Regions from separate parts of the Homo sapiens genome. Here region 2 is linked to region 1. The links come from fine-mapping of genetic effects on gene expression. Tissue or cell type: whole blood. Region 1 holds a variant in brackets; the other region holds the start of a gene. All regions are shown on one strand. Distances are between the middles of the regions.

Region 1 (2,755 bases):
CTCTTCTTCTTCTTCTTTCTCTTTTCTTCCTCTCCTCCTCCTCCTCCTCCTTCTTCTCTTTTCTTTTCTTTTTTTTTTTTTTTTTGAGACAAGATCTCACTGTGTTGCCCAGGCTGGAGTGCAGTGGCACAATCTCAACTCACTGCAACCTCCACCTCCCAGGTTTAAGCAGTTACGGTGCCTCAGCCACCCGAGTAGCTGGGATTACAGGCACACACCACCATGCCCAGCTAATTTTTGTATTTTTAATAGAGGCAGGGTTTCACCATGTTGGCCATGGCTGGTGCTTATGATCTTTTAATGGATGGCCTCTACCCAGACAAGAAGCCTGTATGTGGTACTTCTGCCCCTACTCACCAGGAAGAGCACTCTCCTCTACTGTTCTCCAGTGGGGAGGAGTTAGGCGTGGCTTAGACCAGGAGCATTGAGGGAATGGAAATCATTGGCAAAGGGGAGCTGGCATCCTTCCCTACTGTTTAGAAGTAGATCATATCTAATTAACAGGTGAATGCTCTGGGTATGGCACCTGCTATTTGGTGCTCATGGGAAAGGGCCTTGGGTAGACGGTTCAGGCGCCAGGCCCTTGGTGGAACTGGCTTTTGTTTTTCATTGTACCTAGTCATGGTACACTGGATGGCGGATAACCGGAAGCAGAGTCGACATAGGGATACGGAGGGAAGGAGACTTACATAGATTTCAGGACAACAGTGAGCTGCCAGGCACCAGGCCAGGTGCTTTATCTCATGTAATCCACTTGGTAACATGTGAGGTGGGAGATGCTGGTCCTTTTTATACAGGTGAGGAAACAGAGGCTCTGAGGTAAATTGAATTGCGATTCCACAGCTCGTGGGCTGTGAGCTGGCATTTGTATCAGGCTACAAGTTAAGGCTACGCTTCTGTTCTTGGTACTTGGCATCCACACCTGAGCTATGTGTCCCCAAGGATGAGGCTGCCATTTCTCTCGTGGGCTTTTCTCTTTTCCTCTTTTAGCATATGCTGTGCCCCTAGACCCTAAGCCCTGTGCTAGGTGCCAAGGAAACAAGGGCAATGAGGGATGATGGAGACGGGAGTGGAGGATGGGCCCAGGCCTAAGACTGGAGTGTAGCAGGCCTGTTTCTGTGTCAGTTACAGGGGAGAGCAGCCAACCCAGTCTGGGTTTATGGGGCAGGGGGCCATGCGTGGCACAAGTGTGGGGCTTGCCACACCTGGGCGGAGACAGGCAGGCATGTTGGCTGGAGAGCTTGCTTGCGAGCTTTGCAGCTATCAAATGTGTAAATTCCAAAGTGTATATGTAGAGTTTCTGATTGAATGAAACATTTGAAAAATGAATGGGGAAAGCATCTGGAGTCTTTTTC[T/G]CAATGAGAAGTTAAAGGAGGAAGCTTCAGTGGAGCCTTGTTGACAAAAAACAGTGTGGTACAGATTCCCAGTTGCATAATTCAGAGCACTGGGGAAGTTTTGACCTGTGTTTTGCTCGTCAATTCCTGAGCAAGTGGAAATAATGAAGTTGCTCAGGAGGGATTGCCTTGTGGGCGAGACCTGTGACAGAGTCTGTCATTTTGAACCTTCTGTTCTGGAAATACTTTTTACAGTGTCTTCTGCCTTTTTTCTTTTTAAAGATTGTTTTAAAAACACCACTTCTCGCTTTCTCTCCTTATCTTTCAGTAATTTGTTGCAGGGCATTTTGGATAGGAATATTTCACTGATATTCTTGTTTGAGCTGACGGTCATGTCCCAGATGTGTTTGCTGCAGTATGTGGGCAGATATATGACTGCCCTGTCAAAGTTCTTACTTCCGTATTGACCCCAGCCATAAAAGTCATGATAAATCTGGTTCACAATGAACAATCCTCACATGCTGTTCGTAATTAGAAAATCCAGGTGTGTGCTTTTATTTCTAGAATTTTGTCCTGTCTGAAATGTAGGAAGATGCTGTTATAAAGAAGCACATTCAAAGCCATTTAAAAGCACGGTTGAGCTGGGTGCAGTGGCATGCATCTGTAATCCAGGTACACAGGAGGCTGAGGCGGGAACATGGCTTCAGCCCAGGAGTTGAAGTCCAGCCTGGGCAACATAAGAAAAAAAAAAGTAAAAGCATGGCTGACTTTTCTTAGAGTGAGGCAGTAGACTGTGTGCTTCCTGGCGTGGTGTCCAGGTCGGAAAGCCCAGAGGTGGAATTCTCCTTTGGCCACTTTGGGCCCATCCTGGTGCAGAGCTACAACTTCAGGTTTCCTAGTGCACAGTTCTGATCATATCTTTTTTTCCTAGATGTATAAGGAACTATTTTTCTAAAATGGTGGTGGTTTAAAATATATATATATATATTTAGTATTTATTGATGATTCTTGGGTGTTTCTCGGAGAGGGGGATTTGGCAGGGTCATAGGACAATAGTGGAGGGAAGGTCAGCAGATAAACATGTGAACAAGGGTCTCTGGTTTTCCTAGGCAGAGGACCCTGCGGCCTTCCGCAATGTTTATGTCCCTGGGTACTGGAGCTTAGGGAGTGGTGATGACTCTTAAAGAGCATGCTGCCTTCAAGCATCTGTTTAACAAAGCACATCGTGCACCGCCCTTAATCCATTTAACCCTGAGTGGACACAGCACATGTTTCAGAGAGCACGGGATTGGGGGCAAGGCCATAGATCAACAGCGTCCCAAGGCAGAAGAATCTTTCCTAGCACAGAACAAAATGGAGTCTCCTATGTCTACTTCTTTCCACACAGACACAGTAACAATCCGACTTCTCTTTCTTTTCCC
Region 2 (2,627 bases), 42 kb before region 1:
TAGCCGGTTCTTTTGTTTCTTTCTCAATTATTGTCATAAGGACAATGCCACAGAGCAGTCTAGAAAGTAAACAACCACTAGATTTCTTTGTGGACTCTTTTCTCATACCTATCTATATGTAGCAGCAATTCTACAGTTTCTACCATTTTGTATCTAGCTTTTTCTTTTATTATTATTTTCTTTTATTTTACTTTTTAGAGAACTGGGTCTTGCTATGTGGCCCAGGTTGGCCTCAAACTCCTGGGCTGAAGCGATTCTCCTGCCTCGGCGTCCCAAGAAGCTGGGATTCCAGGTGCATGTCACCATGCCTGGCTCTATCTGGCTTTTTCTTTTAACGTTTTAGTTTAAGCATTTTCCCATAGTGCTACACAGTCATCATTATTATTCTCAAGGGTTGGGCTGACCTGGGTTTCTAATCCTGGCTCTGCCATTTACTCTCTTTACTCCACATCACCCCCAGCAAGTTACCTGGCTCACCCCTCACCTGGGGTTCCTCTCACCATCCTCTCCACCTGGATGACATGAAGCAGTGCTTGGACAGCGCGTAGGACAGTGCTCAGGAAGTGCTCTCCATTTTCCTTCAAGAGTATTTCCCTCTGCAGAACGGGGCTAATACCCTATCATGCAAGGTGATTGTGAGAATTGGAAAGAATGCGTGTGCATTGCCTGGTGCCTTGCCATCCAAATATATTTTATTAGAGAGAGCAGCAACATACGCCCCCCCAACCCCCCGTTTAAACTAAGCGGGTCCACGTGGAATGACGCTTTTGGCGCAAGTCGGAGGAGCTCCTAACGACATTAGCTTCTTTGAGTCCCTTGGGAGAGGAAACTTTCTGAAAGACTGTAGGATTACCTTCCCTGAACTTCCGGTCAGGTGCGGTGCTGCCCTGCCGCGCCCTCTTACCCCTGGATGCCGACGAAACCGCAAAACTCCAGCCCCGGGAAGCGCGTCTCAAGGACCACCACCAGCGAGCGGCTTTGGGAGAGTAATCTGCGCCACCCTCGCAGCCCATTAAATAGGCACTCCCCGTTTGATTGACAGGAGAAGTCACCAATGCGCGTCCTGGGGCTTTCCCTCGTCCTCACGCGGGGTGAGCCGCCTCTCTACTCATCTGGCCCAATCGGGGGCGCCGGGGAGGCTGTGGGGCGGGGCTCGGTGTCCGGTAGCCAATGGACAGAGCCCAGCGGGAGCGGCGGGGGCGGTGCGGTCGCGGCTGGCGGCAGAAGCGGCCGCAGGGGTCTGGGCAGGGCTGGGCAGTGCTGCCGGAGCAAAAGCGGTAGCGGGAGCCCGGCCGGAGCTGGGTCTGGAGACGCCGTGGCAGCCTGAACGGAGTGTGCGACGGATTGGGAGGTGAGTGGCCGCCGAGGTCAGGGGTCGCCGCGACGGTTGGGGCGCCGCGGGCGGGACGCGGGGGCGCTGGTCCGCGGCCGGGCCCGCGCCCCGTCAGGGCCGCCGCGCCGAGCTCCGCGCCCTGAGGGAAGCGGGTCGGGCCGCGCGGAACTTCCTGTCTCTGTGGGAGGGGGCGAGTGCTCGGGGCCCCGGGGGGCGCCTGGAGAAGACATCTTGGGGAGGACGAGGGCGAGTGGGGTCGGCTCGGGGAAGGGGCGGGGGCCCATGGGGGCGGCGCTGTGGGAGCGGGGCAGTTTTCCGGGGTCCGGGGCCTGCTGGAGAGGGAAGTGCAGGAGCAGGGCCGTCGGGGGTTAAGAGCTGCTAATGAGTGGGGGAGGTGTAGACAGCTGCAGAAGGGGGAGCTGGGGCGACTTTTGGAGGGACGCGATTTAGGAGAAAGCTGGGAATCCGAGACGTGCAGAGGTTAGGCGAGGGTGCCGGAGCAACGCTGGAGGGAAGGCGTGGCTGGGACGCGCCGGTGAGAGGGCAGGGCTTAGTCCTGGGGTGGCCTGGGGGGCGACGCAGGACACACGCGGGTGCGCTGATTTCGGGCGCTTTGATGAGCGGCCTCCATTTCCTTCCTTCCCACCCTCCGTGTCCCGGGGGGGGGGGGGTGGTGTGTGTGTGTCTGTGTGTGTGTGTGTGTGTGTGTGTGTGTGTAGGGCGGGGGGAGCAAAGCCCTTACCGCAGCACGTCCTAGGGCTGGGGCCAAGCAGGAGAGGCCGGGGAGGTTTGCCCTTGTGACCCTCCTCAGAGTTTCCCCAGACTCACTGAATCAGAAATCCGAACTCCTTACTCCTCTAGGGCTTTCAAGCCTGGCCAGGCATCCTGAGAGGTCCGCAATTGGAGAGGTAGTGATTGCTGCTGCTGTTGAATTTCATTGATTCATTGGGTTTCGGCTCCATCAGAGAAGGTCGATTTTCTTTTCAGAAGGAGTTGGTTGGTCAGGGGAGCAAGCTGTGCTATTGCTTTGGGGCCCACACGGCTGCAGCCTTTGACGTATAACAGGACCTGGGGATGCCACTCTTGGCTTGGGTGCCTGAGGGAAGGTGGCCTTTGGCTGGGTGTGTGCACCATTCCTGGATCCTGTCTTCTCTTTTTCCCTCCGCCTGTCCGGTGTTTTTGTGGTTAAGGGGGTAGGCTGCTCAGAGTCTCCAGGGCTACTTGGTACACTGTTTACCAAATACTGCCTGGCTGTCTTGATGAAAATCAGGAAACCAGCTCAAAGAGTTTGAAC

Evidence for each region. PIP is the estimated chance that this variant, and not a neighbour inherited with it, causes the effect.
Region 2: PACSIN2 starts here. The variant in region 1 is fine-mapped to the expression of PACSIN2 in whole blood (TOPMed, PIP above 0.99).

The regions. Positions count from the first base shown.
Region 1 is chr22:42,972,079-42,974,833 of GRCh38, reverse strand. All of the region lies in intron 1 of PACSIN2 (protein kinase C and casein kinase substrate in neurons 2), which reads left to right. Among named protein-coding and RNA genes, the nearest start is that of PACSIN2, 42 kb to the left of the region's middle. The variant T/G (reference allele first, on the strand shown) is at 1,356.
Region 2 is chr22:43,013,745-43,016,371 of GRCh38, reverse strand. It overlaps PACSIN2 (protein kinase C and casein kinase substrate in neurons 2), which reads left to right and starts at 1,223. Exons shown (of 11, transcript NM_001184970.3): 1 at 1,223-1,351. RefSeq lists enhancers at 736-935, 918-1,621 and silencers at 1,056-1,245, 1,256-1,305, 1,426-1,495.